Linked DNA regions of Homo sapiens: regions 2, 3, 4, 5, 6 and 7 are each reported to be linked to region 1. The links are microRNA targets in miRTarBase. Many come from high-throughput screens and were not tested one by one. Region 1 holds a microRNA gene; each other region holds the end of a gene's coding sequence.
The links. Region 1 holds the annotated microRNA hsa-miR-6893-5p (CAGGCAGGUGUAGGGUGGAGC, at 1,262-1,282, shown strand). A microRNA usually pairs through its seed, bases 2 to 8, with sites in the 3' UTR of a target mRNA and lowers its output. Matches are read on the target gene's strand: a 7mer-m8 pairs with bases 2 to 8, a 7mer-A1 pairs with bases 2 to 7 and ends in A, and an 8mer does both.

Region 1 (4,091 bases):
CAGGTGGCCAGGGCTGCGAAGGCATCACCCCCCTCCACGATGCCCTCAACTGTGGCCACTTCGAGGTGGCTGAGCTGCTGCTTGAACGGGGGGCGTCCGTCACCCTCCGCACTCGAAAGGTGAGCCTGGTGGGGCAGAGGGCAAGGGCGAGGTTATGGGGGCTGCTGTGCCCCTGCTCAACTGATGCCACACAGGGCCTCAGCCCGCTGGAGACGCTGCAGCAGTGGGTGAAGCTGTACCGCAGGGACCTGGACCTGGAGACGCGGCAGAAGGCCAGGGCCATGGAGATGCTGCTCCAGGCGGCTGCCTCGGGCCAAGGCAAGCAGGGCGTCCCTTGTCCCTGGGGTTGCTGTGCCTACGCTGAGAGTCCCCGGGCCCTGATTTCGGGAGATGCTCCATCACAGGTGGAGCGGGAGGTGCCGGGCCCCTGCCTCAACACGCATTCTCTCTCCCACAGATCCCCACAGCTCCCAGGCCTTCCACACCCCAAGCAGCCTTCTGTTTGACCCCGAGACCTCTCCTCCTTTGAGCCCCTGCCCAGAACCCCCCTCTAATAGCACTAGACTCCCAGAGGCCTCTCAGGCCCATGTCAGGGTCTCCCCAGGGCAGGCGGCACCAGCCATGGCCAGGCCTCGGAGGAGCAGGCATGGGCCAGCCAGCAGCAGCAGCAGCTCAGAAGGCGAGGACAGCGCAGGCCCCGCACGGCCGTCCCAGAAGAGGCCTCGGTGCTCGGCCACAGCACAACGGGTGGCAGCCTGGACGCCTGGCCCCGCCAGCAACAGGGAAGCAGCCACAGCCAGCACCAGCCGGGCAGCCTACCAGGCAGCCATCCGGGGTGTGGGCAGTGCTCAGAGCCGGCTGGGGCCTGGCCCACCGCGGGGCCACAGCAAAGCCCTTGCCCCCCAGGCAGCGCTCATCCCGGAGGAGGAGTGCCTGGCCGGGGACTGGCTGGAGCTGGACATGCCCCTGACCCGCAGCCGCCGGCCCCGCCCCCGGGGCACTGGAGACAACCGCAGGCCCAGTAGTACCTCTGGGTCGGACAGTGAGGAGAGCAGGCCCCGTGCCCGAGCCAAGCAGGTCCGCCTGACCTGCATGCAGAGTTGCAGTGCGCCAGTTAACGCAGGGCCCAGCAGCCTGGCTTCAGAACCTCCAGGGAGCCCCAGCACCCCCAGGGTCTCAGAGCCCAGTGGGGACAGCTCTGCGGCAGGCCAGCCCTTGGTGGGTATGCAGACCTGGAGCAGAGCCCTCTCCCCACTCCGGGCAGGCAGGTGTAGGGTGGAGCCCACTGTGGCTCCTGACTCAGCCCTGCTGCCTTCACCTGCCAGGGTCCGGCCCCGCCCCCTCCCATCCGGGTTCGAGTTCAAGTTCAGGATCATCTCTTCCTCATCCCTGTCCCACACAGGTGAGGCATCGCCTGCCCTACCCCGCAGCCCACCTGTGCAGCTCCATGCCAGGGTGCTCGTGTTTGCATGTCAGGGTGGGGCGTGTGACGAGGGCTCCCTGGTGTGTTCCAGGAGGATCCTGTGGCCCCCAGGAATAGCAGAGGGGCTGGTGGTGTGCTGGGCTGCAGGGAGAGGAGGGGCCGGCTACCTGGGAATGGGAGAAGCAGCTGAGGGGGCTTCTGGCCCTGGGCAGGGATGGCGGGTCCCTGGGGCATTACCCCGGCTGTGTGCAGGCAGCAGCAGCAGCGCCTCTGTCCCTGCAGCAGTGACACCCACTCTGTGGCCTGGCTGGCCGAGCAGGCGGCCCAGCGCTACTACCAGACCTGCGGGCTGCTGCCCAGGCTCACCCTACGGAAAGAGGGGGCCCTGCTGGCCCCACAGGACCTCATCCCTGATGTGCTGCAGAGCAATGACGAGGTGAGCCGCAGAGCGGAGGGGGAGCCAGGGCCTCAGGCACCGGGAGCCCCCGGGTGGCTCATGGCTGCAGAGCAATGATGAGGTGAGCCGGGGGAGCCCCCAGGTGGCTCATGACGGTGCCTTCCAGGTGTTGGCTGAGGTGACTTCGTGGGACCTGCCCCCGTTGACTGACCGCTACCGCAGGGCCTGCCAGAGCCTGGGGCAAGGTGAGGGCCAGGAGAGCTGCAGTTTCTGGGTGAGGTCGTACAAGGGGGTTGGGCACACAGGCTCCACCAGCCCGGTTCATTCCTGGGCCTCGGGTGTTTTGGGGTGCACCTCCCCCAGCCTGGTGGGTGCTGTGTCCTGCACTTGGATGTGTGGGTGGAAGGGAGAGGACAGCCCTCAGCCCCCATGATCTGCTGACAGGGAGATGGCAAAAAGCAGCCGAAAGCCTGGAAAGTCAAACCCAAGGAGGAGGGCCTGGCATGGGCTGGGAGCTGCTGGGGAAGCTTCCCAGAAAGCTTGTCCCGGGGGGTGTGGAATCTGGCAGTGACTGGTGGAGCTCAGGGTGCTGCAGACCCACCCCGGCCCCCAGGGCCTCACAGTGCTAGACCCACAGGCATGTGCGAGTGGGCTCTACAGCAAGTCTGGTGGGTGACCCCTGGGGCTGTTGAAAAGGGGCTGCCTGGTTTGCCCTCTGGGATTCAGAGGGCAGAAAGGGCCGGCCTTACCCTGGTGACATCACATCCCTCCCGCAGGGGAGCACCAACAGGTGCTGCAGGCCGTGGAGCTCCAGGGCTTGGGCCTCTCGTTCAGCGCCTGCTCCCTGGCCCTGGACCAGGCCCAGCTTACACCCCTGCTGCGGGCCCTCAAGCTGCACACAGCACTCCGGGAGCTGCGCCTGGCAGGGAACCGGCTGGGGGACAAGTGTGTGGCTGAGCTGGTGGCTGCCCTGGGCACCATGCCCAGCCTGGCCCTCCTTGACCTCTCCTCCAATCACCTGGGTCCCGAAGGCCTGCGCCAGCTTGCCATGGGGCTCCCAGGCCAAGCCACCTTGCAGGTATAGGCACAGAGAGCAGCAGGCCCTCAACAGCGGGGAGTTGGGGTTCCCATTCTGCAGGTCCCTGGGTGGTCTAGGGTAGTTGGGAGAGCCAGCCAGTGCCCGGCTGTAATAGGCTATGCCAGGCAAGGTGGGGAAGAGACTGCCAAGCCAAGCCCCAAGGGGGACCCTGTCCGTGGGACTGCTGGGGGCTCACTGCCAGCCTGTGTCTTCCACAGAGTTTGGAGGAGCTGGACTTAAGCATGAACCCCCTGGGGGACGGCTGTGGCCAGTCCCTGGCCTCCCTCCTGCACGCCTGCCCCTTACTCAGCACCCTGCGCCTGCAGGCGTGTGGCTTCGGCCCCAGCTTCTTTCTGAGCCACCAGACAGCACTGGGTAGTGCTTTCCAAGGTGAGCTGACCAGGCACTCCCTGTCCACTCCCTAGCCCTGGGGCATTGAGGGTTTCCAGGACTTTCAGAGGGGGCCCAGGCTGGGCACACAGGGGCAACACCTGTGGTCCCAGCTACTTGAGAGGCTGAGGCGGGAGTATCGCTTGAGCCAAGAGTTCCAGGAAAGCCTGGCCCACATAGTGAGACCCCATCCCTTAAGAAAAAAGCGTCTAGGCCGGGCGCAGTGGCTCACGCCTGTAATCCCAGCACTTTGGGAGGCCAAGGCGGGCAGATCACGAGGTCAGGATATCGAGACCATCCTGGCTAACACGGTGAAACGCCGTCTCTATTAAAAATACAATTAGCTGGGCGTGGTGGCCGGTGCCTGTAGTCCCAGCTACGCAGGAGGCTGAGGCAGGAGAATGGCATGAACCCGGGAAGCGGAGCTTGCAGTGAGCCGAGATCGCGCCGTTGCACTCCAGCCTGGGCGACAGAGCAAGACTCCGTGTCAAAAAAACGAAACAAACAACGTCTAGGGGCCTGGGATGCCAGACCTGGCTCTCCGGGAGGGCCTGGCACCTGGGAGCAATAGATGGATGTGTGGGTACAGGGTCTGCCTCCGAGGGGCGTCTGGTGCCCACCCAGCCAGGCTGACCCCCGCAGGACACACCGAGAGCAGAGTCCGGGCAGCTAGTGTCCTGTGGTCCCCATCCCGTGCTCGCCAGCTGAGTGCTGTTCGCCTGAGGCAGTTCCACTGTGAGCCCACTCAGGCTGCAGAGACTGGGGTCCCAGTGCCAAGAGGCTGGGAATTGGGTGTCATCCAG
Region 2 (4,000 bases), not on the chromosome of region 1:
GAAGTCGAAACAGTTACATTCTTTCTACAGATTGTAGTATTTGATTATTTTAATAAATGTAGAATATTTGACTTTAAAATTTAAATTTCCCTCAACCTACCTTTATCAACCTATTAGTAGTAGTAATTAACTTACCTATTAACTAACCAATGGTTAATTTCTGTACCTTACTGTTTCACTCTGTTACATACATATTATTTTGCTAACAAGAAAACGTGTATTGTGAGCTGAATACTGGGTGAGGTCTGGTTAGCATCTGGTACACTTGGCAATTGGGAGACATTTATAAATACATTTTGCTTAGAATATGGTGAAGTGGGGGTAGGGATAAAACCTCTTATGGGAACTTTACCTATACACTTTACATTTGATATAATACATTTTTTGGGTGTTTATATTAAACTTTGCTTCTTTACAGATATGAGGAAAGCACTTTCCAGGGATACTGAGAAGAAATCCATCATACCATTACCTCATCCTGTGAGGCCTGAAGACATTGAATAACCCTGGGCAGTGGTTCTTAGGCAGATACTCTAGATGCTTTATGGACAATATTATTTTCATTGGATGATTCTGGAGCTCTATTAGGAGAAAAGTAATCATTTTAGGTCTTAAAGACTTCAAGAAAATACAGGTTATCAATTTATTTTAAATCTCATTGTTTCCAGTTAGCAATATCATACCTATTAAAGCTGTTCATTGTAACAAAATTCAATCAAAAAGGCAGCTAGGTCAGAAGGAAACATACCACTCTCATGGTTCATAGTATTCACTGTATGTATGCTAGGGAAAAGACTTGCTCCAGTCTCCTCCTCAGTTCTGTGCCTGAGAACCACTGCTGCATATATTTGTTTTTAAATTTTGTATTGAACTGTTAATTGAAGCTTTAAAAGCATATATGAAATGTATAAATCTAAGATGTATAATACATTATTGACTCTATGAATGTTTTCTGAAGTTTGTTAGTCATTTGTAAAACTAAATCAGATTGTAATCCCAGTACTTTGGGAGGCCAAGGCAGGCTGATTGCTTGAGGTCAGGAGTTTGAGACCAGCCTGGCCAAAATCTATACTAAAAAAAATACAAAAATTAGCTGGGCATCCCAGCTATGCAGAAGCTGAAGCACAAGAATTGCTTGAACCCTGGAGGTGGAGGTTGCAGTGAGCTGAGATCGTCCCACTGCACTCCAGCCCGGGCAACAGAGTAAGACCCTGCCTCAAGAAAAAAAAAAAAAAAAAAAATCAGGATTGTGAAAGGTCATCATCATTTAAGATACGTTTAATTAAATTGTGACTTCCATACGTAGTATTTTAAAAATGCACACTTGAAGCAATCACTGTCCAGCATACTTAAGAAGCTCCCTTCTTATCGTGTAGTAAATTCTTCCCAGTCACCTGCGTTCATACCATTATACTGTTTGTTTGTTAGTCCTAGATCTTTTCTCCTCTTCACAATGCTTTGCTTAAATCCTGCCCTTCTAAAAAGCCAAAAAAAAAAAAAAAAAACTTGAGGTTTTTTTTTTTTTTGGAGAGGGAAAAGAACATAATTCCTAAAGAAAGGCCATATAACTATATCATAGGCCAACCATGTATTTTATGTGTAGTGTCTTCCTCTGTAATATGTGAAAATATCCAGTTAGTTAGTTAGTGAAAGACTTAACGAAAGAAAAACCCACAAGAAATTATTAAACTTTTACTATCGAAAGGATTTACTTTGGTGGAGTTGAGGGTGGGAGAGAAATGAATCTTTATGTTCTCCTGTTAGAGAATAGCTTTTTTCCTTCCAGCTTTCACACTGGCACATGCTTATTACAATTCTACCTTGGGAACATGACAGAATTTTTTTCTTATGCATTCATGCAACATAAACAGATAATTCTAGGAAGACTGTGATTAAGTCACTTGCATTCTGACCTATTATTTTCATCTCTCCCTGACTCTGGGTGAGCCAAAGGCTATTAAGATGATGTTCTCCTGCTCACTCACTAGGCAGACCTCTACTCGAGAAGTGATCTGACACCGCAGTAGCTGATGCTCGTCCAGTGACTAAAGCAGTCAGGCTGAAAACAGATTTTATCTCAACAACAGTCCTAGTTTCTTCTGTCCTCAAACACTGTTATTTATTTTCAAGATAAAATTTAGTAACAACATTACGAAGTAGCTTTTATTCCCTTGGGTGAATAAGATGTGCACATTTAATAATAAATTTGCTTACTAAAGGTCCTTTTAGGGGAAAACAACCTTAAAAATACAGTTCTAGTCCTTGGGCAGTGAACAAAGAAAAAATGTGCTTGAGAAACACAGTCCAGGTTAAAGGAAAACTCTCAGATCGGTTAATGCAGTTGAATTTTTGCTTGAGAATGTGAGCAACGTATCAGCAAATACATTCATTCTTGTGCTACTCTTCATTATTTAGCATAGAGCTACCTTAGGTGTTTCTACACATGCTCTAAACCAAGAGTAAGTTTAACATGTCAGCAGTGAGGAGTAGACATTTTCTACTATAGCACACTGGGAGATGTTTACTGGTACTCTAGGTAGAAATGACTCCATTGTCCACTAAGTTTGGGAAATAAATAATATGGCAACATTGCTACTGGAGATACATAATGTACAGAAGCCTAACTATAAAGAGATTTGATTAACGAGACTTAAGTCTTAGTCCAGAATTTCCCAAATTTATGTGAACATGGGACATCATTTTTCATAGCACACACGTGAACAAGCCATTATTCTTTAAACAAGGTATTACAAACTCAACCACTCTGGAGAACTGATGAGCGCCTAACTGAAATTATTAGACTAAATTCTTAGTAAACAATGTTTTCTGAACCTTGTTCAGAAATATAATCACTGCAAATTATTTTCCAAGTGTTGTTCTAAAAAACAATATAACTGGACACTAGTAAGAAAGTAAGGTAAATTATTAATCCACTCGCATTCAATTCTACAAGGAATGAAACCATTTTTAAAAGTGGCTTAGAACAAACAATTTACTGAGCACTTACTATGCACCCACCAGGTATATTCCTTTTATAATGTAATCTTCAAAATGAGCTGTCAAACTATTGGCCCATTTTGTGAATGAGGAAAATGAAAATTAAGTTATATAATCATGAGTGGCAGAGCTGGGAAATGAACTCAAGTCTGTGACTCTGAAGACATGAAAAAGTTACACATTTCAGATGAATGCATAAACTATCTTTATGGGTATGACATGAAAAGTAACTGTAGAATGTTACCTTAATTACATTTCCTAATGCATGATGTGGACAGACATTAGAAAAGTTTGGACTCAGTTGGAAAAACAAATCCAGCAGTTAAAAAAGTCCTTTACTTGCAATCCCTACCCCTAGCTAACCCAAGAGCATTTAAAAAATAACTTAAAAAGTAGCCATCAAAGATACCAATCAATTTCTTACTGGTGAAATATATAAGAACTTCCAGGAGTCACAAGAGTTCCAAACAATTAATTTATAAAAATAACAAAACATTTGTCTATGAAAAAAAGATCAGGATTCACTCTCATCGACGTCCTCATCTGGATGGTGCTCAGCATCCTCCTTTTCCTGCTGCTGTTTCTTCCACAGTTTGGCCATGGCCAGGAGTTTGAGGTTAGGTTGGTTGGCAGCATCTTCTGGAAAGATGTAATCAAAGTATTCTTCCCAGCCTGCATCAGACTACAGAAATAAAAAATGAAAAGATAAGCAAACGTGGGTGATATACTCACATATCAGAGTGAAGAATTTTTACTGGAAATCCGGATGATTACCTCCATTTTACAAAATAACATCAAAGTCTACTACAGAAAGAACAAGGGCTGGGTCTGAAAGACTGGGAGTGAGTAAGCAGCAACTGTAGCTCAGTGAGAACTAAACTGGTAGAAAAACATTCTAAAAATCTAAGCACAGCTCCTCTATAGCCAACCAAGATGTTCAGTGTCTCCAACTACATTGTGCAGTCTTACACTTAAGAAAACGTTTAACGATCTTTACATAATA
Region 3 (4,000 bases), not on the chromosome of region 1:
AGCAGGAACAGATTAACACTGAGCCTCTAGAAGACACAGTCCTGTCCCCGACCAAAAAGAGAAAGAGGCAAAAGGGGACGGAAGGGATGGAGCCAGAGGAGGGGGTGACAGTTGAGTCTCAGCCACAGGTGAAGGTGGAGCCACTGGAGGAAGCCATCCCTCTGCCCCCTACGAAGAAGAGGAAAAAAGAAAAGGGACAGATGGCAATGATGGAGCCAGGGACGGAGGCGATGGAGCCAGTGGAGCCGGAGATGAAGCCTCTGGAGTCCCCAGGGGGGACCATGGCGCCTCAACAGCCAGAAGGAGCGAAGCCTCAGGCCCAGGCAGCTCTGGCAGCTCCCAAAAAGAAGACGAAGAAAGAAAAACAGCAAGATGCCACAGTGGAGCCAGAGACAGAGGTGGTGGGGCCTGAGCTGCCGGATGACCTTGAGCCTCAGGCAGCTCCCACATCCACCAAGAAGAAGAAGAAGAAGAAAGAGAGAGGTCACACAGTGACTGAGCCAATTCAGCCACTAGAGCCTGAACTGCCAGGGGAGGGACAGCCTGAAGCCAGGGCAACTCCGGGATCCACCAAGAAGAGGAAGAAGCAGAGTCAGGAAAGCCGGATGCCAGAGACAGTGCCCCAAGAGGAGATGCCAGGGCCGCCACTGAATTCAGAGTCTGGGGAGGAGGCTCCCACAGGCCGGGACAAGAAGCGGAAGCAGCAGCAGCAGCAGCCTGTGTAGTCTGCCCCCGGGAAACTGAGGAACTAAAGAAAGCTGAAGGTGCCCACCTGGGCCACCAGAAGGTGACACCCCCAGAATCCCTCCCCAGAGACTGCACCAGCGCAGCCAGCAGGAGCCTGGCCTGGGAGGACGATTTATTATTACACTGGGGGTTTCCTTGGCAGCTGGGGTCATCAGGGTACTTTCAAGAAGGGCTCGTGCAGGACATCAAACAGCCTCCGGGCCTGGATGGGAGGGAGAAAAAAATGAGGAACCAGTCATTAAAGGAGCTGTTTCCTGGGTAAATCTAGAGTGGGGTTTTGGTTCTTTATTTTCCCCTATACCCTCAAGCATTTATCCATTGAGTTACAAACAATCCAGTTACAATCTTTTTAAGTTATTATTATTATTATTATTTTTTTTTTTTTTGAGATGGAGTCTCGCTCTGTCGCCCAGGTTGGAGTGCAGTGGCGCAATCTCGGCTCACTGCAAGCTCCGCCTCCCGGGTTCACGCCATTCTCCTGCCTCAGCCTCCTGAGTAGCTGGGACTACAGGCCCCTGCCCAGCTAATTTTTTGTATTTTTTTTTAGTAGAGATGGGGTTTCACCACGTTAGCCAGGATGGTCTCGATCTCCTGACCTCCTGATGCGCCTGCCTCAGCCTCCCAGTGCTGGGATTATAGGTGTGAGCCACTGCGCCTGGCTAAGTTATTATTATTTTTTTGAGACAGTCTCCTGGTGTCACCCAGGCTGGAGTGCAGTGGTGTGATCTTGGCTCACTGCAACCTCCGCCTCCTGGGTTCCAACGATTCTCCTGCCTCAGCCTCCCGAGTAGCTGGGCCTAAAGGTGCCCACCACTATACCCGGCTAATTTTTGTATTTTTAGTAGAGACAGGGGTTTCACCATATTGGCCAGGCTGGTCTCGAACTCCTGACCTCGTGATCCACCTGCCTTGACCTCCCAAAGTGCTAGGATAACAGGTGTGAGCCACCGCACCCTGCCAAGTTATTTTAAAATGTACCATTATTATTGACTATAGTCACCTGGTTGTGTTATCAAATAGTATGTCTTATTCATTCTTTCTTTGTGTGTGTGTGTGTGTGTGTGTGTGTGTGTGGTACCCATTAACCTTCCCCATCTCCCTGCCAGCCCCTAACTACCCTCCCCAGCCTCCAGGAACTATCCATCCACTCTTATCTCCATGAGTTCAATTGTTTTGATTTTTAGATACACAAATAAATAAGAACATGCAATGTTTGTCTTTCTGTGCCTGGCTTATTTCACTTAACATAATAATCCCCAGTTCATTATGTTGTAATTGACAGGATCTCATGTTTTTTTTGTTTTGTTTTGTTTTGTTTTGAAAAGGGTCTCGCTCTGTCGCCCAGGCTGGAGTGCAGTGGCACAATCTTGGCTCACTGCAACCTCCGCCTCCCGGATTCAAGCGATTCTCCTGCCTCAGCCTCCCAAGTAGTTGTGATTACAGGCACGCGCCACCACACCCAGCTCATTTTTTCATTTTTAGTAGAGACAAGGTTTCACCACGTTGGCCAGGCTGGTCTTGAACTTCTGGCCTCAAGTGATCTGCCCGCCTCGGCCTCCCAAAGTGCTGGGATTAGAGGTGTGAGCCACCGCGCCCAGCCAGGATCTCATTCTTTTTTATGGCTGAAGAGTATCCATTGTGTGTAAGTACCACATTTTCTTTGCCTGGTCATCTGCTGATGGACACAGGTTGGTTCTAAGTTTTGGCAATGTGAACTGTGCTGCAACAAACAGGAGTGCAGATACCTGTTCCATACACTGATTTCCTTTTTTTGGGGATATACCCAGCAGTGGGATTGCTGGATCATGTGGAACCTCAACTTTTCAGTTTTTAGAGGAGCCTCCAAACTGTTTTCCATAGTGGTTGTACTGATTTACATTCCCATCAAAAGTATATGAGGGTTCCCTTTTCTTCACATCCTCGCCACCATTTGTTATTGCCTGTCCACCATTTGTTATTGCCTGTCCTTTGGATAAAAGCCATTTTAAGGCCGGGCACCATGGCTCACACCTGTAATCCCGGCACTTTGGGAGACCGAGGTGGGTGGATCACCAGAGGTCAGGAGTTCAAGACCAGCCTGACCAACCTAGGGAAACCCCATCTCTACTAAAAATACAAAAACTAGCTGGGCATGGTAGCGAGTGCCTGTAATCCCATCTACTCAGGAGGCTGAGGCAGGAGAATCGCTTGGATCCAGGAGACGGAGGTTGCAGTGAGCTGAGATCATGCCATTGCACTCCAGCCTGGGCAACAGAGTGAGACTCCATCTCAAAAAATAATAATAAGCCATTTTAATAGAGCTGAGATGGTATCTCATTATAGTTTATTTTTGGTTTTTGGTTTTCTTTTTTGAGATGGAGTCTCACTCTGTCACCCAGGCTGGAGTGCAGTGGTATGATCTCGGCTCACTGCAAGCTCTGCCTCCCAGGTTCATGCCATTCTCCTGCCTCAGCCTCCCGAGTAGCTGGGACTACAGGTGCCCACCACCACACCCAGCTAATTTTTTTTTGTATTTTTAGTAGAGACGGGGTTTCACCATGTTAGCCATGATGGTCTCAATCTCCTGACCTCACGATCCACCCGCCTCGGCCTCCCAAAGTGTTGGGATTACAGGCGTGAGCCACCATGCCCGGCCTATTTTTGGTTTTTTTTGAGATGGAGTTTTGCTTCTGTTGTCCAGGCTGGAGGGCAGTGGTGTGATTTCAGCTCACTGCAACCTCCGTCTCCCGGGTTCAAGAGATTCTCCTGCCTCAGCCACTCAAGTAGCTGGGATTACAAGCATGCGCCACCACACCCAACTAATTTTTATATTTTTAGTAGAGATGGGGTTTCGCCATGTTGGCCAGGCTGATCTTGAACTCCTGGCCTCAAGTGATCTGCCCGCCTCGGCCTCCCAAAGTGCTGGGATTACAGGCATGAGCCACTGCACCCAGCCTCACTGTAGTTTTGATTTGCATTTTTCTGATGATCAATGATGCTGAGCACCTTTTCATATGCCTGCTTGCCATTTGTATGTCTTTTGAGAAATGTTAATTCAAATATTTTGCCCACTTTTTGATTGGATTATTATATTTTATCCTATAGAGTTGTTAGAACTCTTATCTTCTGATTATTGATTCCTTGTCAGATGGTTAGTTTGCAGATATTTTCTCCCATCCTGTGTGTTGTCTCTTCACTTTGTGGAATGTTTGCTGTGCAGAAGCCTTTTATTCTTTTTTTTTTTTTTAATTTTTGAGATAGAGTTTCACTCTTA
Region 4 (4,091 bases), not on the chromosome of region 1:
CAGGAAGTAGGCTTTCCTGCACGACTTGAAGAGAGGCATTCTCATTAATTGAATCAATCACCAGAGACCATTTGAGAACTGAACGACCTAAAACCCTTGCATTCCTAGTCTTCCTTTTCAGAACATGAAAACTTAAAGTGTAGGGGAAGGGCAATAAACTTAGCTTCTTCTTTGGGACTTAAAGGCATTATTCGTTTAGGTTTTAGACAGACTGATCATTTGAGGATCAACAAGTGTTTTGTGATATGACAGACTTTAAGTAGCACAGTAGTTTTGTGTGGACCCAGCCACCTAGCATTTGGGACAGCACTGATGGCTCTTGTCTTTGTTCCAGGTCACCGTAGAGTTTGCAGATGAAGTACGATTGTCCTTCATTTGTACTGAAGTAGATTGCAAAGTGGTTCATGAATTCATTGGTGGCTACATATTTCTCTCAACACGTGCAAAAGACCAAAACGAGAGTTTAGATGAAGAGATGTTCTACAAACTTACCAGTGGTTGGGTGTGAATAGGAATACTGTTTAATGAAACTCCACGGCCATAACAATATTTAACTTTAAAAGCTGTTTGTTATATGCTGCTTAATAAAGTAAGCTTGAAATTTATCATTTTATCATGAAAACTTCTTTGCCTTACCAGACCAGTTAATATGTGCACTAAACAAGCACGACTATTAATCTATCATGTTATGATATAATAAACTTGAATTTGTCACACATTCCTTAGGGCCATGAATTGAAAACTGAAATAGTGGGCAAATCAGGAACAAACCATCACTGATTTACTGATTTAAGCTAGCCAAACTGTAAGAAACAAGCCATCTATTTTAAAGCTATCCAGGGCTTAACCTATATGAACTCTATTTATCATGTCTAATGCATGTGATTTAATGTATGTTTAATTTGATATCATGTTTTAAAATATCCTACTTCTGGTAGCCATTTAATTCCTCCCCCTACCCCCAAATAAATCAGGCATGCAGGAGGCCTGATATTTAGTAATGTCATTGTGTTTGACCTTGAAGGAAAATGCTATTAGTCCGTCGTGCTTGATTTGTTTTTGTCCTTGAATAAGCATGTTATGTATATTGTCTCGTGTTTTTATTTTTACACCATATTGTATTACACTTTTAGTATTCACCAGCATAATCACTGTCTGCCTAAAATATGCAACTCTTTGCATTACAATATGAAGTAAAGTTCTATGAAGTATGCATTTTGTGTAACTAATGTAAAAACACAAATTTTATAAAATTGTACAGTTTTTTAAAAACTACTCACAACTAGCAGATGGCTTAAATGTAGCAATCTCTGCGTTAATTAAATGCCTTTAAGAGATATAATTAACGTGCAGTTTTAATATCTACTAAATTAAGAATGACTTCATTATGATCATGATTTGCCACAATGTCCTTAACTCTAATGCCTGGACTGGCCATGTTCTAGTCTGTTGCGCTGTTACAATCTGTATTGGTGCTAGTCAGAAAATTCCTAGCTCACATAGCCCAAAAGGGTGCGAGGGAGAGGTGGATTACCAGTATTGTTCAATAATCCATGGTTCAAAGACTGTATAAATGCATTTTATTTTAAATAAAAGCAAAACTTTTATTTAATATTTATTTTTGTACTTGTTTTTAATGTTTACATAGTATTAATTTAGTAGAAATGAACTTCTGCCTTTTGGAATTGCTTTGCCTGCATGTTATTTTGTGAGAACAACTGGTTAGTATTCCACAGCGTTGCCAGATAGAGATACTTTATCTCAAAGATAGTCTTTCACCTCAATTGAAAAGCCCTCATTTTCTTAATACTTAAAAATGAATGTGTAATATCTAAATGTTAGAAATGTACTTATAAATAGAAGTTGGCTGTGGCAGAATTTGTTTTAAATAACAAAATTATTCTTGGTTTACAAAAAAAAATACATTTACGAATTTACTCCCAGTCATTACTGCTGTCATCATTCAAGACTCAGATTTCTAGTCCTTTACCCTTTGCATGTAATTAGACCAATTCCTGTTGATTTTCCCCTCACACAGCCTTGCATCTTTTCTCTTGTCATTGCTGTCACCGTCATCCAAATTCAGTTCTTTGTCCTGTGCCTGCTGTAGTGTGGCACCATCTTAAGACAAGGCTGTGATGACATTCTCCATGACTTTTCTTTGTACTCCAAAGCCATAACAGGCCTTGCTCCTAAATCTAAGAGCTCCTTTCCACTAAACATTTTAAAATATACTCCCTTTCCTCATCTTTAGTAAGTGACTGTGCAAGTCACCAACTTACATGTCACTTATTAAAAGCCCCAAAACATGTTTGATTGAAACCACACCTATTCAAGTGCTTTCTAGTCCCATGGCCTCCACACAAGTGAGAGTAGCCTCTGTGCTGATTGCCACACCTCTGGTTTGCCCCGCTGCCTTCCCAGTGATCTTGAGATTAATCCAGCCCCAACATAGCGCTAGCTGCATTTCAGCGCTAATGACTCCTTATTGCCTACAGGATAAAAGCCAAAGTAAAGTGCTCAGAGGTTTTGTATGGTCTCCGAGCCCACATTTTCATCCTTATCTCCCAACAATCTGCATTCCAGTCCAGCTGGGCAGCTCACATTCTCCACTTTGCACTCATCCATCCATCATTCCCCAAGTCTGGAATGTCTTTAGTCCTGGACCTTCATCCAGTTTGTATCTGTCTACACCTCATCTGTCTAGCATTTTAGAAAAAGGTCAAGTGGGCCTGGGGTGGTGGCTCACACCTGTAATCCCAGCACTTTGGGAGGCCGAGGTGGGTGGATCACGAGGTCAGGAGTTCAAGACCAGCCTGGCCAAGATGATGAAACACCGTCTCTACTAGAAATACAAAAATTAGCTGGGCATGGTAGCACATGCTTGTAATCCCAGCTACTCGGGAGTCTGAGGCAGGAGAATTGCTTGAACCCAGGAGGCGGAGATTGCAGTGAGTTGAGATTGTGCCACTGCACTCCAGCCTAGGCAACAGAGCAACACTCCATCTCAAAAAAAAAAAAAAAAAGGCCAGGCGTGGTGGCTCACGCCTGTAATCCCAGCACTTTGGGGGGCCGAGGCAGGCGGATCATGAGGTCAAGAGATCAAGACCATCCTGGTCAACATGATGAAACCCCGTCTCTACTAAAAATAGAAAAATTAGCTGGGCATGGTAGTGCGCACCTGTAGTCCCAGCTACTCAGGAGGCTGAGGCAGGAGTATCGCTTGAACCCAGAAGGTGGAGGTTACAGTGAGTCAAGATCTCGCCACTGCACTCCAGCCTGGGTGACAAAGTGAGACTCCATCTCAAAAAAAAAAAAAACCAAAAGACTCAAGTGCTCTTTCTTCCATAAACACTTCCAAGTTTCCTTGCAGCCAAAAACTCTCTTCCTCCTGAACTGCCATTGAATTTGGTCCTTCTGTGGAACTAAAGAGTAATCGTCCTTATTATGGTTGAGTATATCATGTTGCCCCTAACATAGAATTGTTACATCCTTGAGGACTGGATCTTAGTGCTATGGTTTCTACTTAGAATCAGTTACACATGGGTTTATTGAATATAATGATGGTTATTTTGGAAATAACCAAATTATTAACCAAACCAAATAACCAAAGGAATTATTATTAGAACTCAGAATTTTTGTAGCCTCAGTATAGTTTAATACAGAGCAAACTAACTTGGACACCAACTATGCAACAGGAAACGTGCTAAGTACTCACTCTTTCAAGGATTCATACAATTCAGCCTCTTCATTTTATAGATGAGGCTCGGGGAGGCCAATTGACCTGTTTAAAGTCACACATCTATGATTACTGCCAAGGCCAATCATATCCCTATCTAGTAGTAGTAAAAACAAACCTTTCATGAATTCTGAGACCACTATTAGTAGTGACCTCTCTAGAGAGAACATAGGTCTGTTAGAATACTAGCTGGGACTTCCAGAGACGTAGCTTCAGCTTTCTGCTCCATGTGACTCAAGCTCAGTTGGACATGAAAGCACTGGTGACAGAACCCCAACCTAGCTCCCATCCAATTCTTTCCCTTAAATCATCAGGTTAGAAGCCTGCTGGAAGCCCCTGGCAGGGCGCAGTG
Region 5 (4,091 bases), not on the chromosome of region 1:
ATGCACGTGAGAGGCTGGGTGCCGGCAGGGTTCCTGAGGGACTGGAAGATGTGGCCCCCTGCCTGCCTCCTTCCTCTTGTGAATATAAGGGGCCAGTTCCCAGCCCAAAGCCCCACCCGGGGCCCTCATGTTTCATCACCAACAGGCCTACTGTCTGGCTCCTTTTGACCTCATCAAAGTCCGGCTACAAAACCAGACAGAGCCAAGGGCCCAGCCAGGGAGCCCCCCACCCCGGTACCAGGGGCCCGTGCACTGTGCAGCCTCCATCTTCCGGGAGGAGGGGCCCCGGGGGCTGTTCCGAGGAGCCTGGGCCCTGACGCTGAGGGACACCCCCACGGTGGGGATCTACTTCATCACCTATGAAGGGCTCTGTCGCCAGTACACACCAGAAGGCCAGAATCCCAGTAAGTAAAGTGGCGTGAGAGGATGGGGGACAGAGGTGTGGGTAGCAGGCAGGGTCCAGCGGGGACTGGGGAAGGAAACTAGGGTCTGGGGAGGATGCTCTGTTCTGGGTCTGACCCCTGCTCTGGGCTCTCTCTGCCCCAGGCTCAGCCACGGTGCTGGTGGCAGGGGGCTTTGCAGGCATTGCTTCCTGGGTGGCAGCCACGCCCTTAGACATGATCAAGTCCCGGATGCAGATGGATGGACTGAGACGCAGAGTGTACCAGGGGATGCTGGACTGCATGGTGAGCAGCATCCGGCAGGAAGGACTGGGAGTCTTCTTCCGGGGGGTCACCATCAACAGTGCCCGCGCCTTTCCCGTCAATGCTGTCACCTTCCTCAGCTACGAATATCTCCTCCGCTGGTGGGGATGAGCCCTGCGGCAATGCCAGCAGCTCCCCATCAGGCCCACGGCCTGGAGGCCAGTTTGAGATTGGAGGCCAGGTTGAAAGCTTGCAAATCAGTGCAAGAGGCTCAGCCCTTCCTAACCAAGGTGCCTCCCACCCGCGCAGATCTGGGCTGGGCAGACACCTGTGGGAGCCGGAAGCCAGGGGGCCTGTGCAGCCTCCCTGTGTAGCTGGCCTTGACTCCTTTGCCTCCCACATCTGTGAAACAGGGAGCATGAGGCACAAGTGAGCTGGCAAGTGGTGCTGGTGACATCCCAGCTCCTGTCCTGTGCCTTCACCTCTTTTTTTTTTTTTTTTTTTTTTTGAGATGGAGTCTTTCTCTGTCACCCAGGCTGGAATGCAGTGGCGTGATCTCGGCTCACTGCAACCTCCGCCTTTCCACCTTCCGGGTTCAAGCAACTCTCCTGCCTCAGCCTCCCAAGTAGCTGGGACTATAGGCGCCCGCCACCACACCCAGCTAAATTTTTGTATTTTTAGTAGAGACAGGGTTTCACCATGTCAGCCAGGATGGTCTTGATCTCCTGACTTTGTGATCCGCCCGCGTCGGCCTCTCAAAGTGCTGGGATTACAGGCGTGAGCCACCGCGCCCGGCTGCCTTCACCTCTTAAGGAGCTCTGAGACTCCACTTCTGAGAGTCCCTGCGGCCTCCCACCTCCCTGCCTTTCAAAGCTCTCTCCCCCATGACCCAGGATAACCCTATGTCTCCTCCCCCAGAATCCTTCAGTGGCTCTCATCACCTTCAGGAAAAGCCCAAACTCCTTCCACCCTCCAGGTTCCTCCCTCCCCACGAGGCTTTGTTCTCCTGGGGTTGCTTCCTGGACCCTGAACAAGTTGTGCTCTCATTGGCCGGGCCTGGCCAGCAGTGCACAGTGCCTGGCAGGTTGACTCTACCATCCCCGGGGCTGGCCCCGCTCTCCTCCGAGACCCAGGCTGAGCCCAGTCCCCTCACCCTTCCTTGACTTACCTCCCCACCTGAGGCTGACTTTGGGGTTCCCAGACACCCTACCCACACACATGCCTTGATCATAGCACTTGCCTGCGCTTCTTCAGAGTCATTAATTTGCTTCTCGGCTTCCCCACTGGACTGTGAGCTGCCTGAGGTCAGGGATTGCGCTTTGGATGGTTTCCAGCCTGAGCCTGGTGCTTGAACAGACGTGTGCAATAAATGCTCGTTAAATGATGCGACTGCACTCCTGACCTGTCTCTTCACGCCAGCTGCCACACCTGCTTCCCTGGTCTTGCCACACAGCTTTCTGTTGAACCTCCCAGCCCCCATTTTCCTGCTCTGACCCTTCTCGAGGTCACCTGCAGTGGAGGATGCTGGGAGCTGGGGGTCTGTCTGCTTTGCCCACTCCCAGCCAATGGTGCTTGTTTTCTTTTTCTTTTTCTCTATTTTTTCTTTTATTAGATACAGAGTCTCACTCTGTTGCCCAGGCTGGAGTGCAGTGGTGCCATTATAGCTCACTGTGGCCTTGAACTCCTGGACTCAAGTGATCTTCCCACCCTAGTCTTCTGAGTAGCTGGGACTACAGGTGTGTGCCACCGCACCTGGCTAATTTTTAATTTTTTTGTAGAGAGGAGGTCTCACTATGTTGCCCAGGCCGTCTTGAACTCCTGAGCACAGATAGCCCTCCCACCTTGGCCTCCCAAAGAGCTGGAGTTACAGGTGTGAGCCACTGTTGTTTTCTTTACCCATCTCACTTGCTCAGTGGGAATTAAAAACTGGCTGAGAGGGTTCTTTTAACTGACAACAAAATTGAGCATCAAGGGCCATTTGTACCCACTAATGTCCCTATCTGGTCTGAGATCAACGTGAGTCCACCTCATGGTGACCTGAATTCCTGCCATTTACTGGGGGCTCCCTGTAGAAACAATCACAGTGTTATGATCACAGTTGATAGAGAGGCAGCCTCGGCTCAGAGACATTATGTAACTTGTCCTAGGTCACACCGCGGGTAAATCATACAATTTGCTTAGATGCCTCTGAGCTTCCAGCCGCAGTGTCCAGTTACTTAGCTACCCTGCTCCACCTGGGCACATGGCTACCCTGCTCCACCTGGGCACATGGGGGTCTTCTGCGAGTCACCTAAGTTCAACTCCCCCCACACCACCCTGGGCTAGACCTGCCGGGACCATACTACGTCACGTGCTCATCAGAGCTCTCCTTCACCAGATCATGTGCTGCAGATGGCTGGAGGCCATCTGCAACTAGTTTTTGTATTTTTAGTAGAGATAGGGTTTCACCATGTTGGCCAGGCTGGCCTCGAACTCCTGGTCTTATGTGATCCACCCGCCTTGGCCTCCCAAAGCGTTGGGATTACAGGCGTGAGGCACCTGGCTCTGTCCTTGTTGCAACAGTTTAGGCCCTTGTTGCAACAGTTTAGCAAGCTTCATCCTGACTCAGTGGGTAAGGTACTGTGAGTTTCTAAGTCAGTGGTAATCCAAGTGTGGTCCATGGAGCAAAGCTTATTAGAAATGCAGCATCTGGCCAGACACAGTGGTTCACACCTGTAATTACAGCACTTTAGGAGGCCGAGGCAGGAGGACCACTTGAGGCTAGGAGTTCAAGACCAGCCTGGGCAACATAGTGAGACCTTGTATCTACCAAAAATTTAAACATTAGCCAGGTGTGGTGGCACTGTGCCTGTAGACAGAGCTGCTTGGGAGACTGAGGTGGGAGGACTGTTTGAACCTGGGAGGTTGAGGCTGCAGTGAGTTTTGATTGCGCCACTGTACTCCAGCGTGGGTGATGGAGCAAGACTCTGTCTCAAATAATAATAATGATAATAATTTTTAAAAAGATATGCAGCATCTCAGGCCCCACCCCAGACCTACCAAATCAGAATCTCTGAGGATGGGGCGCAGGAATCTGTGTTGTGAAAAGCTCTCCCAGGGATTTCTACACATGCTAAAGTTTAAGAATCGGTGTTCTGGGGGCTCCTGATCGTGGGAATGTGCTGCCCTTTCGGGCTGAGAAAGGTGTATGGTGGAAGAGACTCGAACTCCTAGTTTCTAGCAGTCTCTGCTCCTCCTATGGAAAACACAAGGTCCACCTGAGGCCGGTTCCCAGGTGCCTTGAGGCAGGCACTGCCCTTCCTGTGCCTCAGTTTCCTCTGTGATCCCTTTTTTTTTCTTTTGAGATGGTGTGTTGCTCTGTCACCCAGGCTGGGGTGCGGTGGCACGATCTCGGCTCACTGCAACTTCTGCTTCCTGGGTTCAAGTGATCCTCCTGCCTGGGACTAC
Region 6 (4,091 bases), not on the chromosome of region 1:
TGTGTTTTGTTTTTATATTGGAAAAATATTATGCTTTCAAATGTTAATACCTATGAAACTAAACACAAGTAATAAATATATTAGTATAGCATTTATTAAGGTTTCTTGTGTAGCAGATCAACATAGAAAATATATTTAAATGGCTGACATAATTTTCTAAGAATACATACACGTATATTTTTTATAACATTAAGAAACAGCAGCATCATTACTTTAATCCATCATTTCGTTAACCACCATATACCTGTTGATCATTTGTATTGTCATGTGCTTTTTAAAAATCTAGATGAGAAATATTCGATTATCTGACTTCACTGAATCCTTGAAAAAAATAAAACGCAGCGTCAGCCCTCAAACTTTAGAAGCGTACATACGTTGGAACAAGGACTTTGGAGATACCACTGTTTAAGGAAATACCTTTGTAAACCTGCAGAACATTTTACTTAAAAGAGGAAACACAAGATCTTCAATGAACGTCATCGGCTACAGAAACAGCCTAAGTTTACAGGACTTTTTAGAGTCTTACATATTTGTGCACCAAACTTGAAGATGAACCAGAAAACAGACTTAAACAAAATATACAATGCAAATGTAATTTTTTGTTGTTTAAGGCCTTGCCTTGATGGTCACAGTTATCCCAATGGACACTAAGTTAGAGCACAACAAAACCTGATTCTGGTCTTCTTTACCAATATAATCATAATGTAAATAATAATTTGTATATTGTGTTGCAGATGAAAGTATTCCAGGAACAGTGAATGGTAGAAGACACAAGAACATTTGTTTGTTTGTCTTCTGATGTTTTTTCTTAAAATAGTAATTTCTCCTACTTTTCTTTTCTACTGTTGTCTTAACTACAGGTGATTGGAATGCCAAACACTCTTAAGTTTATTTTCTTTTTTCGTTTTATAAATTCAGTGTGCCAAATGAAACTTTTTTCCTAAGTAACTGTAATAGGAAAAAGTTTATTTTGAGAGTTTCTTCTTCATAAATCTACAGACATTAAACAATTGTTGTGTTCTTTTTACCTTTTATTTTTCTATTACCTTGCTACCAAACAGTTTAGATAGCAATATAATAGCAAAAAAGCAAATATGGTAAAATAGAGAAGGTTTGAAGGTTTGAGTTACTCTGTCATATAACATGTAGATCAGTCTTCATGTGACCTGCAGTATTTTTTTTTCTAATGTATTTGTCAGAAATCTGTTGTAGACTGTTAACTTCTTCCTGATGGAATTTATTTTCTGCAAGAATTATTCTGATATTTAAGAGAGCCAATTTTAACTGCTGTGAAAATGTTTCCAGTGCAAGAGAAGGGAAATACTAGGAACTAAGACATTTCTAATTTATTGCTTATTACTTTCTTAATTTTACAGGATAATTATAAGCAAGTGGAACTACCATCTTTTATTCTTAATAATTATTAATCCCTTCAATGAAACTTTAAAAAAACTGAATTTTTATACATGGCATACATTTTTCTAGTTCCTTCTGCTTGCTTTATTAACTCAAAAGTTCTAGTTCTAGTCTGTTGATCTGCCTTTTGTTCTCCCAAAATGTACAGTAATTCCATTTGTTTGTATAAATATGCCTGGATTTTCATTATAAAAATGTCATTGTAGGGAGTAGAGACTCATATCATGGCCTTTTAAATATTGTAATAAAGGCAAATAGATATTTGCCCTTAGTTTACTGGTTAAAAGTTTGTTTACAGAACTTTTCTCTGGTGCTTAAATGATGCTATGTAAAATGTCATGAGTGGAAAGAATATTTGTAGTAGTAACAAGAATTTTTCATTTAGGAAAGATTTCTTAGGTTTTGAAAGAATACATTAAAATAAAAAACTTGCCCCTACTAGGTAAGAACTTTATAATGAAGACATACATTCTTCTTAATTTTACTCTTGCTCTTGTTAAAGATTTGTTTGAATATAGAAGATGCATGATTTCTGGGTTTTTTTTTTTTTTTGAGACAGAGTTTCGCTCTTGTTGCCCAGGCTGGAGTGCAATGGCGCAATCTCGACTCACCACAACCTCCGCCTCCCAGGTTCAAGCAATTCTCCTGCCTCAGCCTCCCGAGTAGCTGGGATTACAGGCATGCGCCACTACCCCAGCTAATTTTGTATTTTTAGTAGAGATGGGGTTTCTCCATGTTGGTCAGGCTGGTCTTGAACTCCTGACCTCAGGTGATCCGCCTGCCTCGGCCTCCCAAAGTGCTGGGATTACAGGCATAAGCCACTGCGCCCAGCCAGAAGATGCATGATTTCTTAGGATCATATGCTGTTTGTAGCCATAAGGTAAATCATGTCTCTTCCAATCATGACTTTGGAACTCCCTGAATAATAAAAATGAGAGTTGAGATAAATAGGGGAAAAAAAATTTTTTTCAAGCCAGAGCTATGCATATGTTAGGTGATGGGTAGTATCCCTTTAAGGTCTCAAACATTACAACATCAATTATGAAATACTGATAACGAAAGGTAGTAATGAAATATATATGATGAAAAGAATTGAGAAGTTCTAAATTAAGACATTTCAGTTAAGCTCATAAAATTTCATTGTTTTCATTTAAAAGATTAACGTTATTGATACTTGGATAACTGGCTAATCATATTAAAGGACTATGTGGTTCCAGCTCAACTTTTAATATATTGTCTCCTTTAAAACTATCATGGTTATAATTCTATTGGGAAAGACTTTTAGATAACAAAGATTTCAAATGTTAAAAGAGATAAAAGTCAGGTTAATACTATCTTAAACACTGAGTCAGAAAATCATTACTGTATAGAAGTTGCTTTCCTGATCAAGTCTGAACTTCAGCTAGTGCTAGAGAACTATTTTCTATGACTTAACTCTAACCAAGTTTTATTTTAAGCTGTTTCTTTGATAGAAGGGCCATGAAAATAGAGTAATGATATAGTAGGAGATAAGGGATTGGTTTGGTCTTTTTCAATAAAGATAGAAGTTGCTGAAGTTTTCTGAATTAATAATGACTTAGATTGTGACCTTTTAGATTCGGTGTTGAGCTCTGTGTTGTATTACTTCCTAAAAGATAATGCTTAAACATTAAGCATTAGTGTGCTCTTCATGTTAATATGGCAGAGTTTTGTAAACTAAATTAAAACTTACTGATATATTGGACTTTGAGCCAAGGGAAAGAATGAGTACTATCTTTCCAGATATCTTAAGGGTAAAAGCTTATTCTAAGACAGTCTGTCCATTGAGAATATTAGATTTCTGACTTGCAAATATGTTTGTACTCCAGAAGAATTAGAGGAAAAGCAGATACTAGAATTCTAATTTAATTACATATACAGCCGTCTTTGTTTATAGTGTAGAATTCTTTATATTTTGTACAAAAACTAATTCTTTTGGTAAAATGAACCATTTACAGTTCGGTTTTGGACTCTGAGTCAAAGGATTTTCCTTTAAATGCTTGTCTCAATTTTAGTCTGGTCTTTTGTACTTTTCTTCAGAAGAAATGAATTAAAGGGTACAGTTGCATAAAGTGGGTTTTTATCCTAATGTATTGGAAATAAATGATAAACTTTATTTTGTCTTTACTTTTTTACTTTAAAACTTTTTGATATTTTAGGGGTTGGAGTCTGATAATGAAGGAGTTGTGTGTATTGGACTCTTAGTAACAATTATAAACGCTTAACAAAATATAGAAAGCAATGATTGGGTGGCTCTGCAGAGCAATCAAAACAAGGTAGAAACTGCAAAGTCCTATAATGGAAGAGATTCAGGCTGGGTGTGGTGGCTCATGCCTGTTTGGGAGGCCAGTATGGGAGAATCGCTTACACTCAGGAATTCAAGACCAGCCTGGGGAATATAGGGAGACCCTGTTTCTGCCAAAAAAAAAAAAAAAAAAAAAACTAAACTAAAAATTAGCCAGGTTTGGTGGCCTACACCTGTAGTCCCGGTTACTCAAGAGGCTGAGGTTAGAGGATCGCTTAAGCCCGGGAGGAGGAGGTTGCAGTGAGCCAAGATCACACCACCACACTCCAGCCCAGGTTACAGAGAACCTGTCTCAAAAAATAAAAAGTAAACGAGATTCACCTTAACCAGCTTTTACCCATAGGGCAATTTC
Region 7 (4,091 bases), not on the chromosome of region 1:
GAGGCATCTCAAGACTCAGATCCAGAAATTCGATGACCAAGGAGACAGCGAGGGCTCCGTGTACTTCTAAGTGCCCCTGCAGATGGGCAGAGGGATGCATGGGGATGCAGGTCCCTTGCATTTCTTGGTATCTCTCAGCTTTTCCTCTTGCAGCTCCCCCTACCAGGGGTCGCTTTCTCCTGGATTGCAAATGCCTCTTCAGTTTGGACTCAGCTCTGACAGCCCCTCCTCCAGGAAGGCCTTCCAGGACTTCCTCCTCTGGGTCCTCTAGCTCTGACCCTACAGGGACTCCAGATCTCAACCTGTTCCCTGGAAGTAGGGCCTGCTCTCCATCCCAGTGAAATAAACATGTATTAGACACCTACTGAGTATAATTACTTAACACTTCTGATTTCACTCAGTTGTCACACACACAAAAAGTTGTTTTTTGTTTTTGTTTTTGTTTGAGACTGTGTCTCACTCTGTCGCCCAGGCTGGAGTGCAGTGGCACGATCTTGGCTCACTGCAACCTCCGCCTCCCCGGTTCAAGTGATTCTCCTGCCTCAGCCTCCCAAGTAGCTGGGATTACAGACACCTGCCACCATGCCCAACTAATTTTCATATTTTTAGTAGAGACGGGGTTTCACCATGTTGGCCAGGCTGGACTGGAACTCCTGACCTCAAGTGATCCGCCCACCTCAGCCTCCAAAAGTGCTGGGGTTACAGGCATGAGCCACCACGTCCAGCTGGATTCTTCACTCTCTGTGTCTCCCTGGGCACTTCAGGACAGCAACTGACCCCAGTGTGTGGGCACGGTCCATATGCATGGCCTAGGGGGAGGCTCTTCCAGTGTCTGACCCATCCCAGGCCCTAGCTGTGATGGGTGGGGCACAGGTGGGGCCAGTCTCCCTGTGGGAGCCATGTAACAGCAGACCAGAAGCTGTCCTCTGAGTTTCAGTCTCCCAAGGGAGCCACAGGGGCAAGAAGCAACCAGGAAGACCAACTACATGCAGGGGAGACAGCGTCAACCACTGGGCCACCACGATTGTCCTCAAGAAGGCCCTAGTCTGGGGAAGATAGCCCTGAGTCCAGTAAAAGAAGGCTGCACAGCAGAGTCTTAATAGCCAGGGAGGCTCAAGATCTCTTCCCGCAGGAAGGGCCATGTGGGTAGGGTTTTGTAGGAAAAGTAGGAGTTCAGCAGTCAGGCCTTGGACAGACATCCAGATCTCTGGCCTGGGGCCAAACAGCAGGACAGACACCATGGTCTCACTCAACCCTCAGATGTCCTGTGCATTGGATAAATGAGACCTTGCTGTCCAGTTTGACTGGAGTAGACATGGACCCACTCACTCACAGGACACCATGGAGAGACCCTGACCTAATGCAAAACCCAGTGCAGCCTTCAACGAGAACCTGGTGTCCTCTCCATCCCGCCCCTGCCTCAGTTCCCTTCTGGGAACGTGCCCACAAGAAACCCTCACTGACTCCACAGGAGGGGCCTAATCTCTCGTCTTCCAAGGCTTTCTTCAAGATGGACATGGGGAGACTAGGGAGCATTTTGGCAAACTGGGGCTGCTTAAGAGCTGAGCACTGGCCCAGCAGGCAGCGTGACAGACTTGACTTCTTCCCTTGCTGTTTTCAGGAGGGCATCTTTCTTTTTTTTTTTTTTTTCAGACAGTCTTCCTCTGTTGCCCAGAGTGGAGTGTAGTGGTGCGATCTCAGCTCACTGCAACCTCCGCCTTCCAGGTTCAAGTGATTCTCGTGCCTGAGTCTCCCGAGTAGCTGGGATTACAGGCTCCTGCCACCACGCCTGGCTACAGAAGGACATCAGTGAGAGGTGCCACCCCCACCACCATTCGGGCCCTTTCTCTCTGCCCTACAGCTCTGGTGCTGAATTCCACAGGTGCCTTTCCCACCACAGAGCTGTGCCACACACTCCCGAGGCTGGGACGGGAGAGTCCCTGGTACCCCACATGATTCCGTATCAACCCAGTGAAGCCCACATTTCAAAGTCTTGGCCTTGTAGGTGCCTGACTCCCAAACGTCAATCTCTGAAACAGATTTTTAGTTCCATGTGAGAAAAAAAACTGAAGTCAGATTGACTCAGGCACAAAAGGGGGGAGACTGAGTTCACAGAACTTAAAACACCCAAGGGTTTCAGGTATGGCTTGATCTGGGGCTCCAAAGGCATCTTGGGAAATTGATCTTCCATCCTTGGCTCTGCTTTAATTAGATTCTCCCAGTTCCAAATCCCACCGTGCAATCTCACTGGCTAGTTTGGCATCCCAGGGCCTCCATAAACCAGTTGCTGTGGCCCAGGGAATGGTGGTCTCTGATTGGCTCGCCTTACATCATGTGACAGGACTGGCCCCAGAGGTTTCTCCCAAGGACATTGGAGCCCAAACAAGATTAAGGGCCCGGCAGCTCATGCCTATAATCACACCACTTTGGGAGGCCAAGGCAGGTGGATCACCTGTCAGGAGTTCGAGACCAGCCTGGCCAACATGGCAAAACCCCTCTAGTTAAGGTACAAAAATCAGCTGAACGTGGTGGTGCGCACCTGTAATCCCAACTACTCAGGAGGCTGAGGCAGGAGAATTGCTCCAACTCGGGAGGCAGAGGTTGCACTGAGCCAAGATTGCACCACTGCACTCCAGCCCAGGTGAAACAGCGAAACTCCATCTCAAAAAAAAAAAAAAAAAAAAAAAAAAAGATTAAGGTTGACCAAAAGAAAGTAAGTGAGGCTAGGCACAGTGGCTCACGCTTGTAATCCACTTTTGGAGGCCTCAGGTGCATCACCTGAGGTCAGGAGTTCGAGACCAACCTGGTCAACATGGTGAAACCCCATCTCTACCAAAAATAAAATTAGCTGGGCATCGTGGTGGGTGCCTGTAGTTCCAGCTACTGGGGAGGCTGAGGCAGGAGAATCGCTTGAACCTGTGAGGCAGAGGTTACAGTGAGCCAAGATCACGCCACTGCACTCCAGCCTGGGTGACGAAGTAGGACTCCGTCTCAAAAATAAAAAATAAAAATAAAGACCAGGGAGGCTGTGCAGGTAGGAAATGTCTTTATTATTGGCCTTGAGTCATCATGTAGTGTCTGACATAGGTTACGTGTCCAGAGGATCTGCCTGGCACACGCTAGCTACCCCTGCCCACTGGAGCAGCCCCTCTGGCCGACGCCAGGCCTTTGTCCATCATGCCAGGGAAGCCAACCCCACCATCCCACAAGTTCATGCTAGGGGTGCTGAGGAACAAGGCTGTCCTAGGATTGGACCCTCCATCCTGGACAGGGGTCCTGGGGAGGATGAGGCTGAGGCCTGGATGATCAGTCTCTTTTTGGTTTCATGATCATTTAAAAAACAGAAAAGACAAACATTTCACAGTCTTTAAAAAATAGAAGTCTGAGGAGAGAAGCCAGAGTCCTGGGCCCCGGGAGGCCCCTCGAGGCCTCAGCATTCCCTGTCCCTTGAGGTCTGTCTGCAGGCCTGGCCACAGCACACGTGGCCCCGTCATGGTCACTGGCCCGAGCCGTAGGGCCAGTTGAAGGTACTCCCCGACAGCAGCATGTCTCTGATCAGTGTCTCAATGGGCGTCTTCCCCACCAGGCGCATGAAGAACAGCTGGGAGATGAGGGAGGCAGGGACCGCGCGCAGGGCGGGGAGCCGCAGCAGCAGGCGCCCGAAGCGCTGGGGCTGGGACGGGTACTGCGCCCGCACATACTCGGTGAGGGCCACCTGCGCCTTCTCCTGCAGGCTCTCAACGTGGGCCGGGTCTGAGAGGCCACAGGCGTCTAGGGGGACAAAGGCAAGTCAGACAGGTGGGAGGCAGCTAGAGAACACAGAGCCCACAGGGGTGACTAGGGGACACCACTCGCCACTGTGGGTAAGAACAGGGGGCCGGGCATGATGGCTCACGGCCACAGTCCCAGCACTTTGGGAGGCCAAGGCAGAAGCATCATTTAAGGCCAGGATTTGAGACCAGCCAGGGCAACATAGTATGATCCCTTCTCTGCAAAAACAAATCAGCTGGGGCTGGGCACAGTAGCTCACGCCTGTAATCCCAGCACTTTGGGAGGCTGAGGCAGGTGGATCACTTGAGGTCAGGAGTTCA

Region 2: the mRNA of NAA20 is a reported target of hsa-miR-6893-5p. The part of its 3' UTR that is shown has no 7-base or 8-base seed match.
Region 3: the mRNA of POLR1G is a reported target of hsa-miR-6893-5p. Seed matches in the 3' UTR shown: 7mer-m8 at 1,225-1,231, 7mer-m8 at 1,355-1,361, 7mer-m8 at 1,517-1,523 and 7mer-m8 at 1,651-1,657.
Region 4: miRTarBase lists FERMT2 as a target of hsa-miR-6893-5p. Seed matches in the 3' UTR shown: 7mer-A1 at 1,156-1,162.
Region 5: miRTarBase lists SLC25A45 as a target of hsa-miR-6893-5p. Seed matches in the 3' UTR shown: 7mer-m8 at 1,252-1,258 and 7mer-m8 at 1,504-1,510.
Region 6: miRTarBase lists SPAST as a target of hsa-miR-6893-5p. Seed matches in the 3' UTR shown: 7mer-m8 at 2,061-2,067 and 7mer-m8 at 2,194-2,200.
Region 7: miRTarBase lists NR2F6 as a target of hsa-miR-6893-5p. The part of its 3' UTR that is shown has no 7-base or 8-base seed match.

The regions. Positions count from the first base shown.
Region 1 is chr8:144,432,785-144,436,875 of GRCh38, reverse strand. It overlaps MIR6893 (microRNA 6893), which reads left to right and starts at 1,257; the gene lies at 1,257-1,325. It overlaps TONSL (tonsoku like, DNA repair protein), which reads left to right. Exons shown (of 26, transcript NM_013432.5): 15 at 1-119; 16 at 195-318; 17 at 458-1,218; 18 at 1,326-1,402; 19 at 1,706-1,859; 20 at 1,987-2,065; 21 at 2,597-2,898; 22 at 3,117-3,288. It overlaps TONSL-AS1 (TONSL antisense RNA 1), which reads right to left and starts at 1,708. Exons shown (of 6, transcript NR_109770.1): 1 at 1,436-1,708; 2 at 1-125.
Region 2 is chr20:20,032,684-20,036,683 of GRCh38, forward strand. It overlaps NAA20 (N-alpha-acetyltransferase 20, NatB catalytic subunit), which reads left to right. Exons shown (of 6, transcript NM_016100.5): 6 at 419-972. The coding sequence ends at 504. It overlaps CRNKL1 (crooked neck pre-mRNA splicing factor 1), which reads right to left. Exons shown (of 14, transcript NM_001278628.2): 14 at 1,685-3,679. The coding sequence ends at 3,512. Among named protein-coding and RNA genes, the nearest start is that of NAA20, 17 kb to the left of the region's middle.
Region 3 is chr19:45,408,777-45,412,776 of GRCh38, forward strand. It overlaps POLR1G (RNA polymerase I subunit G), which reads left to right. Exons shown (of 3, transcript NM_012099.3): 3 at 1-1,961. The coding sequence ends at 725. It overlaps ERCC1 (ERCC excision repair 1, endonuclease non-catalytic subunit), which reads right to left. Exons shown (of 10, transcript NM_001983.4): 10 at 1-949. The coding sequence ends at 899. Among named protein-coding and RNA genes, the nearest start is that of POLR1G, 4.1 kb to the left of the region's middle.
Region 4 is chr14:52,854,794-52,858,884 of GRCh38, reverse strand. It overlaps FERMT2 (FERM domain containing kindlin 2), which reads left to right. Exons shown (of 15, transcript NM_006832.3): 15 at 335-1,612. The coding sequence ends at 508. The region is part of intron 1 of LOC105370500 (a long non-coding RNA gene); the gene reads right to left. Among named protein-coding and RNA genes, the nearest start is that of GNPNAT1, 65 kb to the right of the region's middle.
Region 5 is chr11:65,373,131-65,377,221 of GRCh38, reverse strand. SLC25A45 (solute carrier family 25 member 45) reads left to right here. Exons shown (of 7, transcript NM_182556.4): 6 at 146-404; 7 at 547-2,030. The coding sequence ends at 815. It also overlaps a transcript of FRMD8 not described here. Among named protein-coding and RNA genes, the nearest start is that of SLC25A45, 7.5 kb to the left of the region's middle. RefSeq lists an enhancer at 97-597.
Region 6 is chr2:32,154,088-32,158,178 of GRCh38, forward strand. It overlaps SPAST (spastin), which reads left to right. Exons shown (of 17, transcript NM_014946.4): 17 at 287-3,550. The coding sequence ends at 409. Among named protein-coding and RNA genes, the nearest start is that of SLC30A6-DT, 9.6 kb to the right of the region's middle.
Region 7 is chr19:17,228,856-17,232,946 of GRCh38, forward strand. It overlaps NR2F6 (nuclear receptor subfamily 2 group F member 6), which reads right to left. Exons shown (of 4, transcript NM_005234.4): 4 at 3,028-3,771. The coding sequence ends at 3,497. OCEL1 (occludin/ELL domain containing 1) reads left to right here. Exons shown (of 6, transcript NM_024578.3): 6 at 1-364. The coding sequence ends at 70. Among named protein-coding and RNA genes, the nearest start is that of OCEL1, 4.7 kb to the left of the region's middle.